2 separate regions of the Homo sapiens genome follow, and region 1 is linked to region 2. A link means that fine-mapping ties the variant in region 2 to the expression of a gene that starts in the linked region. Tissue or cell type: follicular helper T cells. Region 2 holds a variant in brackets; the other region holds the start of a gene. All regions are shown on one strand. Distances are from middle to middle.

Region 1 (4,473 bases), 440 kb after region 2:
TCTGCCACCGGCGCCTGCTCTTCTGCTGCCCATTGCCCTCCCCAGGGGGCCGTTCCAGGGTCTCATAGGCGAGGGCTCCCTGTGCAGGGTGAGTCCAGGCCACCCTAGACAGCCCGCACCCAGCCCTGGCACTCTGAGTCCGCCTCGACAACTCCCAGATCCTCAGAAGTGCCTCTGAGCCCTCCTGGCCTTCTGGGAGTGGGGAAGGGGGGCTTTGCAGGCCACCAGCCAAAGGCTCAGCAGGCCGAGAGGCCTGGGGGCGGGCGAGGCTGGCCTCGGGTCAGAGGGTGAATCAGCTCATGCTGGCTCCCTTTCTGAGAGGCTCTGGGGGAGTTATGGGAACTCCTGGCCTTCCTCCTTTCCACCCCCCAACCCTGTCCTCATTCCCCACCCCTCCAGGCCAGGCCCAGCTTCTGCAAGGGCCTGATGAGGCTGCTCTGCCCCTGACCCAGGCACCACTGCCCCATGTGCGTCCTCATCTGCCATCTACCCTGTGCCCAGGGACTTACCCAGTGGCCCGGCGTCCAGTGGGGAACTTGAGTACCGGCCGTGCACAGGGGCTGGGGGGCCTTCTGGAAACTCCCTTGTCAACTCAGCCAGCCGCTGCTGACTGGCCACCTTCAGAGACCCTCTTCCCCACACTGGCTACTTAGATACCGGCCTTGGCAGAAGGCCACCCCTCCGGACACCCACTGGTTTAAAAGAGCCCAGGGGTCTGGCCCTGCCTTAGGGCTGTGGTGGGTGTGCTGCAGGCTCAGCTCGACAGGTGCTGTGGGGGCAGTCTAGGGTGGCCCGCAGGGTGGGGTGTGTGGGGGTGATTGGGGGATTCCTGGAATTCCAAGAGCTGGGAGCCACAGCACTTTTGATGGGATGGGGGCAGGGGGTGCTGAGGTGAGGCTGGTTTCTGGCTGGACGGTGGTGGGTGGAGCTGAGGGAACTGAGATCTTTGAGACAGCGACACCTGGTGCAGAGAAAAATCCGCAAGCTCGGGGGTTGGGAGAGCGCTGAACAAGGCCGCAGAGCTGCTCCGCCATCTCCCCCACGCCTCCTGCCAAGTTCTGTGGCGCCGCGGTTCCCCACCTCCTGCTCCCATCCCCCTGGCTCCCGCCGCCCTGTAGCTCGGCAGGTGCAGTAGGCGCTCCGAGGAGGAGGCCCCTTAGCTTCAAGAAACCCGCGTGGGCGGGGTGAGGAGCGCAGTCCTCCTACTGGCGCCGTGAAGGAGATCGCGATGCGCCGGAGGGAAGGAGGCTGCGGGCGGGGAAGGACGGAGGGCGTGCGGGGAGGGAGAGGAGGGGCTTGCTGGGGGGGGGGCCCCGAGGCGGGGCCGGGAGGGCCGCCTGGAAGAGGAGGTCGGGGGCGAAGGAGGCCGAGAAGAAAGGTGGGGCCGGGACCCCTCGGGCTGCGCCTCTCGTGGGCGTGTCCAGCCAGGGCTGGGGGTCCAGGGAGGACTGAGTTTCCCTCTCCCGCCGTCCTCGCAGCCCCGGGAGGTGCAGGGGCATCGCGGGAACAGCCCCGGTGACACGCTGCCCGGGGTCTTCACGAATGCCCGGAGGCGCCGCTGGCCAGAAGCCAGCCCGACCTTCCATCCCCGCAGACAGCCCCACGTTCCTCCCGGCCCGCGTCTTTCGGGGCCGCCCGTGCAGGCGGGCCCGGCTCAGCGGCGCCCGGGCAGCAGCTGCTTCCATGCGCCGGCTTCCTCCGGGGCTGCTCCGTGGCGGCGGCAGAGGGAAGCGCTGCCGCGGGCGGGCGAGGATCGGGAGCGCCTGAGGAGGCTGCCGCGGGCTCCGGCTGCGCGTTCGGGGCGGGGGAGCTGCCCGGGACTTCGCGCCAGGGGCCAGGGGCCGGCCGCGCTGGGGTCTGCGCTGTGCGGCGCGGCGGGCTCTGGGCGCCTCCTGGCGGCCCAGCCTGGAAGGCGGCGCGATGGGGCGAGGCTCGTCCGCTCCGACTGCGTAAGCGGCCCCACAGGGCGCCTTCCGGAGTCTGCGCGCTCCCGCCCGGCGGTTGCTAGGTTGCCAAGGGGCGTGAGGCGCTGATGGGTGGGGTCTGAGCGAGGCGGGGTGTCGGGTGTCGTGACGATTGAGCCTGCAAGGGCGGACTCTGCGGTGTTCTCCATATCAACAGCCCTGCCAGGAGCCCGGAAGTGGGTCCGCACGAGACAGAATAGACTACACTCAAACTCCAGGGGAACCGTTCATTGGGCTTGGACACGAAGGCGGGACCCTGCCGACGCAGTGATTGGATGCATGTCCGGCCAGCGCGGTGATTGGGTACAGGTCTCGGGAGCGCGGTGATTGGGTACAGGTCTCGGCCAGCGCGGTGATTGGGCGCAGGTCCCAGCCGGCGCGGTGATTGGGCGCTGGACCCGGCCCGTGCCATGATTGGGCTCAGGTTCCAGCCGGAGCGGTAACTGGGCGCAGGTCCCAGCCGCCGCACTAAACCCGGCCCGTGCGGTGATTGGACGCAGGCCCCGGGCCGCGGCGGAGGCGGGCGATCCGAAAGAGGCTGGTGCTGGCTGCATGGGGAGGCGGCGGCAGCGGGTGGACCCCGCGGCTGGGGCCCGGGCCGGGGCCCTGCCTGAGGCCATCGCCGCGTTGAGTCGGTCGCTGCCCTCGGGACCCAGCCCCGAGATCTTCCGCCGCGCCAAGTTCGACCGTCCGGAGGCGGTGACGCTCTCGCGGAGGGCAGGCGGGCCGGGTGGGGTCCCGGGCCCTCGCAGGGAGTTGGGCCGGCTCCGCTGACCGCCCGCTTTTTATTTTCCGCAGACCTCCGCGCTCTGGCAGCTCCTCTTCCGTGTGCTCTCGCCACTCCCTGCGGGCAACGCCTTGGCATCGCTCGCCCTGGGTAAGCCCCGCTCCTGGCCCCGCCCACCCGGTAGCACTGGCCCCGCCTACTCCTGTAAAGCCCCGCCTTCCCCAGTAAGCCCCGCCCCGGCAGGCTCTAGCCCCCACCCAACACTGACCCCGCTTGCTCCTCAAAACTCCGCCTTCCCCGGTAAGCCACGCCCCCTGATGGGCCCTAGCTCCACCCCCTTGGGTAGCACTGGCTTCTGCTCCTACAAAGCCCTGGGGACGTCCCTGTTGGCCCCTGGTCTCCTCATCCTGGTCTGAGTTCTAGCTCTCCCACTATCATCTCTTCTGAACTAGGCCTTGAGCTTCTGCTCAAGTGACCTGTGGGGGTCTCTGGAGGGATCCAGGTGGTGTCACCTCCAGGTGGGTGGTCCCCCTAAGGTGGTGGTCTTCTGTCCTAGAGGTCCAAGCCCGCTTGGTGAAGTCAGCACTATGCTCCCAGGGCTACCCGAGGCTGGCACTGGCACAACTACCTGAGGATGGCTCGCAGGGCAGTCGGGAGCTGCTGCTGGCTCTGTCCTGGCTCTTGGCCCGAGGACCTGTGCCCGAGCAGATGCTGGCCCAGGCCCGAGTGCCTCTGGGTGACGAGATGACTGTGTGCCAGGTGCGTGTGGGTGAGGGTGAGCTGAGCCAGCCCTGGTCTCAACTCCTGGGGCCAGAGCAAGGGCAGGCCTGGGTCAGCCCCCTCTGTCTGCTTTGCTCCTCAGGGCAGTCCCATGAAGGGTTACCCAGCTGCCCAGCTGAAAGCACGGAGGCTCCCTGTGCAGGGAGCACCCGTTGTTTTTGGCTGTGCCTCCACTACCGTCTCCATCCTGGCCTTTTCTGGGGGGCAGGGTGGGGTGGGAGCAGGGCCTGACCCTTGCCCCTCTCCAGTGTGAGGCCCTGGCCAGCCCTGGCCCACCTGCACCCCACATGGAAGCAGAGGGTCCTGTGGATGTCCGCCATGTGCAGTGGCTGATGGGAAAGCTGCGGTTCCGGTGGCGCCAGCTGGTGTCCAGTCAGCAGGAGCAGTGCGCCCTCCTGAGCAAGGTAGAGCTGGCACAGGGCTTCCACTCAGGGGCTGTGTCCCGTGCTGCAGGCCGCCAGCTGCCAGTCCCTGCAGCCCGTCCCGTGAGGCCTGGCACAGGCTTTTGGCTGGATGTGGGCCTTCCTGCCCTGGCTTACCCAAAGCCTGAGCCCGTGGTTCCCGGTGGTCCTTGTAGGGGGCAGGGCTGGGCAGGGAGCCCAGTGGGGTGGGCAATGGTGGGCAGAAACGGGTGTCAGAGAGCTCACAGAATTTGCCTTTCTGTTCCCAAAAGTTACCAGTGGACTTCCAGCTCTGTGAACAGTGGGATGGGGTCTGTGCCATGAAAGCCACTCCCTCCTGGGCACTGGAGGGGGAGGAAGACAGCTCCTGTTGCCACCACATCCTGGTGGGGGCTGACTTGCGGGGTGGACAGCTCCTGTGGGGTCCTGAAGGTGGCAGGGGCTGGCTCAGGGGCACAGGTACCCAGTGGTGTGTCCACTGTGAGGCCAGCGCTGACAGGTGGGTCTGTGGCAGCGGCGGGCTCCCACCAGCGCGGGACTCCTTGGAGACCCCCCCATCCCACCCTTGCAGAGGGTCTGTTGCTCAGCTGGCCTTTCCAGG
Region 2 (6,046 bases):
AGGTCTCCTTGTCTTCCGTCTGGAACACCGGGTAGTGAACGATCCCGACGAGGATGAAGATGCAGGCGGAGATGAGGATGGCGGTCCTCCGGCGGCGGCGGCCCCGACTCTCCAGCGCGTACACCACGGCCACGAAGCGGTCGCAGGAGATGCAGCACAGGAAGAGGATGCTGACGTAGATGTTGCAGAAGAAGATGTAGGCGGTCACCTTGCAGGCCAGCAGGCCTAGGGTCCAGCGGTGCTGGTTGCGGATATAGATGACCCAGAGTGGCAGCGTGCCTGTGTACAGCAGCTCGCAGAGTGCCAGGCAGAGCAGGTAGACGGCCAGCACGTTGCCCTGCAGTACCTGCAGCAGCGCCAGCCACGCAGTCAGGCAGTTGGCCGGCACCCCCAGCGTGCACACCGCGCTGTACACCACGACCAGGACTATCCTGCTCTCTTCGAAGGACACGTTGTTGCAGGTCTTGGCGGAGAGGCCCAGGGAGGCCCACGGGGCAGTGGTGGTCACTGGGGTGGCGTTTCCTGTGGGACAGAGACAAGAGTGAGGACGGGAGTCCCTGGAAACCACCTGGGAGAGACTCTACTGTGGGAAGAAAGGATAGAAGCTTTGTGGTAGCTCAGACTAGACACACGCAGGTGTTTAAAACATTTCCAAATTGATTTTTTAGAGCAATTATTAGATAGTGGATCTCCAACCTAGCAGCGTCATGGACAAAGAATGCAGGCTGGGCAATACTGAATCATTTTTCTTTTTTCTTTTTTTTGAAATGGAGTTTTGCTCTTGTGGCCCAGGTTGGAGTGCAGTGGCACAACCTCGGCTCACTGCAACCTCTGCCTCCTGGGTTCAGGCAATTCTCCTGCCTCAGCCTCCCAAGTAGCCAGGATTACAGGCACGTGCCACCATGCCTGGCTAATTTTTGTATTTTAGTAGAGACGGGGTTTCACCATGTTGGCCAGGCTGGTCTCGAATTCCTGATCTCAGGTGATCCGCCTGCATCAGCTTCCCAAAGTGCTGGGATTACAGGCGTGAGCCATTGTGTCTGGGCAATGCTGAGTCTTTGTAACTCACTGAGGTTTTCAAAAATGTTGCTTCTGGCCCGGCATGGTGGCTCACACCTGTAATCCCAGCATTTTGGGAGGCTGAGGCAGGCAGATCACTTGAGGTCAGGCGTTTGAGACCAGCCTGGCCAACATGGAGAAACCCTGTCTCTACTAAAAATTTAAAACAAATAGTTGGGCGTGCTGGCTCGCACCTGTAATCCCAGCTACTCTGGAGGCTGAGGCAGGAGAATCACTTGAACCCAGGAGGCGGAGGTTGCAGTGAGCTGAGATCGTGCCGCTGTACTCCAGCCTGGGCAACAAGAGTGAGACTCCTTCTCAAAAAAAAAAAAAAAGTTGCTTGTGTGTTTGAAAAGAATGTTGATCCTGTAATTGCTGTGTGAGTGCTTTTCTAAGCAGTCTGTTAGGCGCTGCTACTATGCCCTTCCAGCGCTGACCCACTTTGCCTCCACTTCCCACCTGGCCCCATAGCTGGGCACTGCCTCATCCTAATTCCTAACCTGTAGTCTTTTTTTTTTTTTTTTTTTTTTTGGAGATGGAGTCTCTCCCTCTGCTCTGTTGCCCAGGCTGGAGTGCAGTGGCACGATCTCAGCTCACTGCAACCTCTGCCTCCCGGATTCAAGGGATTCTCCTGCCTCAGCCTCCTGAGTAGCTGGCATTACAGGCATGCGTCACCACACCCAGCTAATTTTGTATTTTTAGTAGAGATGGGGTTTCTCCATGTTGGTCAGGCTTATCTTGAACTCCCGACCTCAGGTGATCTGCCCTCCTTGGCCTCCCAAAGTGCTGGGATTACAGGCGTGAGCCACTGCGCCCGGCTAATCTGTAGTCTTACCACATATTTGCCTGTGTGAACTATCAATTACTAAAAAAGATAATTATAAGCTCCTGTGGGAGTGGTGGATTTGTCCACCTCTCCTTGTATTCTCCCAGTGCTTGCTTTACGTATTTGAAGCTACTGTGAATTGGGGCATAGGAGTCACAGATGGTTCTGTCTTCTTGGTGAATTGATCCTCTTATTACTATGTCATGTGATACCCCTCCTCTCGGTGGCAGGAGACTAATGACCCCACCCAAAAGATGTCTGAATCCTAATCCTTGGGACATGTAGATATGGCAGGTTACACGGGAAAGGGGAACTAAGGTTGCAAGTTGAATGAAGGTTGCTAACTAGCTGACAGTAAAATAAAGAGATTATTCTGGACTATCTGGTGGGCCCAATGGAATCACAAAAGTCCTTAAATGTGGGAGAGGGCAAAAGAAAAGGAGATCAAAGTGATCTCAGCAACCTGCCTCAAACACAGCTCTCCGAGGTCAGAAACTCATCCTTTCCAGCCAGGGGGTTGCTAGAGGTCACGCAGGGTGTGCAGTGGTGTGACTTCCCCAAGCTCTGCCAGCGCCACCAGCTCCAGTGTCCTGGCTGCCCACTCTGGCTGAGTTCATGCTTCTGGGCCTTCTGTGGTTACAGATCATGGAGTCCCACCTCCAGGTCAGCAGGAAGCCGCAGACAGACCTGGCCTCAGCACCTGACGGACGGACAGAGCGTTGCCAAACTTATTGGGCCACAGCAGCCCCGGGCGGGGCAAACTTCAGCTGTGCCCTGGCGCGAGGTCAGGGGTCCCTGGGCACTGTCCAGCCCGCTGGCCTCAGGAACCTTCCACATGCAAATGTCGTAGTTTCCTTGACCTCCCTCCTGTACTTGAGGGCCTGTTGACCTCCAGCACGATGGGGCAAGTCACCCCGAACGGGGTCAGCCCTGCGGCCCCATTGTGTCGCTCTTTTTTTTTCTTTTTTTTTTTTTTGAGACGTAGTCTCAAAAAACTGTGTTGATGCCCAGGCTGGAGTGCAGTGGCGTGATCTCTGCTACTGCAACCTCTGCCTCCCAAGTTCAAGTGATTCTCCTGCCTCAGCCTCCCGAGTAGCTGGGACTACAGGCACTCGCCACCACGCCCATCTAATTTTTGTAGTTTTAGTAGAGACAAGGTTTCACCAGGTTGGCCAGGCTGGTCTTGAACTCCTGACCTTGGGTGATCTGCCCACCTTGGCCTCCCAAAGTGCTGGGATTACAGGTGTGAGCCACCATGCCAGGCCACTTGTTTTTGTGCATTTAAAAAATTCAGCTGGGCGCAGTGGCTCACGCCTGTAATCCCAGCACTTTGGGAGGCCAGGGTGGGGAGATCACTAGAGGTCAGGCGTTCGAGACCAGCCTGGCTAACCTGGTGAAAACTCGTCTCTACTAAAAATACAAAAATTAGACAGGCGTGGTGGCAGGTGCCTGCAGTCCCAGCTACTTGGGAGGCTGAGGCAGGAGAATGGTGTGAACCCGGAAGGCAGAGATTGCGCCACTGCACTCCAGCCAGGGCAACAGAGCAAGACTCCATCT[CAA/C]AAAAAAAAAAAAAAAAAAAATTCGGCCCCATGGGCCGTTCATTCCTTCAATCCCAACGCTTTGGAAGGACAAGGCAGGTGGATCACCCGAGGTCTGGAGTTCCAGACCAGCCTGACCAACATGGTGAAATCCCATCTCTATTAAAAATACAAATATTAGCCAGGCGTGGTGGGCACCTGTAATCCCAGCTACTTGGGAGGCTGATGCAGGAGAATCCCTTGAACCTGGGAGGCAGAAGCTGCAGTGAGCCGAGATTGTGCCACTGCACTCCAGCCTGGGCGATAGAGTGAGACTCAATCGCAAGAAAAAAAAATTGAAAAAGTGGAAAATTGTGGCAAAATACACATAACAAGGAATTTACCATTGTAACCGTTTTTCAGTAGCATTGGGCACATTCACATTCTTCTGCAACCATCGCCAGCATCCGTCGGCAGAACCTTCTCATCTTCCCAAACGGAGACTCTGCCCCAGGAAGCACTCGCTCCGCATTTGCTCCCAGCCCCCAGGCCTCCATTCCACTTTGTCTCTGTGCGCTGGGCTCCCCTGTCACCTCCCCACGTGGGTGGGCATCTCTGCGTGTCTTCAGCGTGTGTCCTTCCGTGTCTCACGTGCTCCACTCACCACAGTGTCCTCAAGCTCCCTCCTGTTGCAGCGTGTGCCAGGATTTCCCTTCCTTTCAAAGGCGGGATGGTATTCCATTGTATTCAGTGTGTCCTCCAGGGTCTCGCCAAAAATATAAATATATATATATATTCCACTGTGCCCTTCCATCTTGAGCAATCCTGCACGTGTGGCGTGTGGCGTGTGGCGTGTGGCGTGTTCTGCTCAGCCACGACTCCGCTGACAGACGCTCGGCTGCCTCTGTGCCTTAGCTGAGCTGCTGAGAATGACGGTGTCAAGAACATGAGGAGGGCTGTTCACGTCCCTGCTTTCCGTTCTCCTGGGTCAGACCCACAGTTGGCATTGCTGGATCTCACGGCAGTTCCGTCTCATCTCGTGGGGTGCCTCCGCGCTGTTCTCCACGGTGGTGGCGCTGGCCCACCTTCCCCCGGCGGTGTGCAGGGCTCCGGTCTCCCCACAGCCTCGCTGCGCTTGCTGGGTTTCTCCGGGTGAGTGTCGTGTCCCTTGCTCACCTTCCTCCCTGGGCAGAGGGAGAGAGTGGGTGTGACTGGGCTGCCTCACACTCAGTTGTCACCACTTCGCCCAAGACACAGGCCTGTGGCGGGCGGCGGGGGGCAGTGAAGGCAGTTCTCGGGTGGGAGGCCCAACGCCTGTGTTTGCACTCACTGTTCTTCACCCAGATGGCTCTTTTCCCATCAAACGAGTGCCCCAGCCCCGCTGTGCGAGTCCTGAGCTCAGAGGAAGTTTCGGGCCCCCTACACGGCCCCGTCTCTTTCATGACAATCACAGGCCCTGGGAGGCAGAGCCAGAATCCAAAACACAAGGGGAGATGCAGGCAAGACCCGGGGTGGCCAGAGGGGTCCCTCCCACCTCAGCCTGCACAGAGCCGCTCTGGTCTGTTCCCTCCCCGACTTCCTACGGCTCCCCCACCCCACACATCGTCGCCCGTGCGGTCTCAGTCAGGGCCTCGGTGCCCCTCAGTCCCGCACCCCCTGCTCCAGGCCTCACGCAGCCTTGGGACCTTCACCTCTGGACACCAGGTCCGTGGTGTCTGTGGCTCTGTGCCCATCTGGTGAGGAGGCTGTCCCCCGCTCCCCCGCCTCCTGCCACAAGTGACCTCCTGGGAAGAGAGCCTTCCTGGTGGGTCAGAAGTAGGGGCAACGGCACCAGGAGACGCATGGATGCGGGGGGCTGGTGGTCAGCTCCTCATGGCCCAGACCGTGCAGGGCTCCCCTGGGACCTGTGGGACAGCCCCCTGACTCAGTACTGTGTCGCCCTCCCAGGAGCCACCAACTATGCCCTCATTCCCGTTCCTGGCTTCCCAGAACTTCACGAAAGAATTATGAAATCAGTCCTTCATTTCTCCATGTAGCACCTCTAGATTTATTATTGCTGAGCTAGTTTTTATCTCGATAATCTATTTTTATGCGTTAATTTTTGAATTATGAGACAACATGCTTCATGGAAAAATTCTCATGGGCTTCCTCTTACATGTTCAAAGTCGGAGAAGGCTCTCTCACCTGGCATATTTTGCGGGTTCCAATCTCAGTGTGGCTCTAAGATAAGCTTTCTAAGTACATGTCATGCGTCTTGTCGGTCCTATCAAGACGTTCACTCTGAGAGTTTAAAATGACCTGGAAAAAGAGTAGGTTGAAATTGTTTTAGGGAAATCAGATTGAGTCACAAGTTAACCCATTGACAAACGGCTAGTGAGTATTTACTAATTTACTAAGTGGCCCGTTGATTCGTAGGTGTTTTTTAAATGTTGAGAATCTGCCGTTGCATCCCACATGAGAAACACAAGCAAGGCTCCAAGCCAACAGGCATCAAAACGTCACATTAGCCACTGCGACTACATACGATTCTTTTTTTTTTTTTTTTTTTTTTTTCTTGAGATGGAGTCTTGCTCTGTCGCCCAGGCTGGAGTGCAGTAGCACAATCTCGGCTCACTGCAACCTCTGCCTCCCGGGTTCAAACTAT

Which allele goes with the higher level. Positions count from the first base shown, and alleles are read on the strand shown. Sizes are in standard deviations (SD) of each study's normalised expression.
For the expression in follicular helper T cells of the gene that starts at base 2,387 in region 1, CAA is the high allele of the variant in region 2 and C is the other (large effect, 1.7 SD a copy in Schmiedel 2018).

Evidence for each region. PIP is the estimated chance that this variant, and not a neighbour inherited with it, causes the effect.
Region 1: TEDC1 starts here. The variant in region 2 is fine-mapped to the expression of TEDC1 in follicular helper T cells (Schmiedel 2018, PIP 0.95).

What each region holds. Positions count from the first base shown.
Region 1 is chr14:105,488,860-105,493,332 of GRCh38, forward strand. It overlaps TEDC1 (tubulin epsilon and delta complex 1), which reads left to right and starts at 2,387. Exons shown (of 9, transcript NM_001367178.1): 1 at 2,387-2,663; 2 at 2,763-2,841; 3 at 3,248-3,450; 4 at 3,720-3,875. The coding sequence starts at 2,517. It overlaps CRIP1 (cysteine rich protein 1), which reads left to right. Exons shown (of 6, transcript NM_001311.5): 6 at 1-88. RefSeq lists silencers at 1,003-1,132, 1,263-1,312, 1,323-1,952, 2,343-2,712 and enhancers at 1,723-2,466, 2,043-2,292, 2,467-3,210.
Region 2 is chr14:105,051,581-105,057,626 of GRCh38, forward strand. GPR132 (G protein-coupled receptor 132) reads right to left here. Exons shown (of 4, transcript NM_013345.4): 2 at 5,587-5,700; 3 at 3,807-4,586; 4 at 1-522. The coding sequence starts at 3,840. It overlaps LOC124903398 (a long non-coding RNA gene), which reads left to right. Exons shown (of 2, transcript XR_007064368.1): 2 at 3,829-4,197. Among named protein-coding and RNA genes, the nearest start is that of GPR132, 11 kb to the right of the region's middle. RefSeq lists an enhancer at 4,030-4,805. The variant CAA/C (reference allele first, on the strand shown) is at 3,443.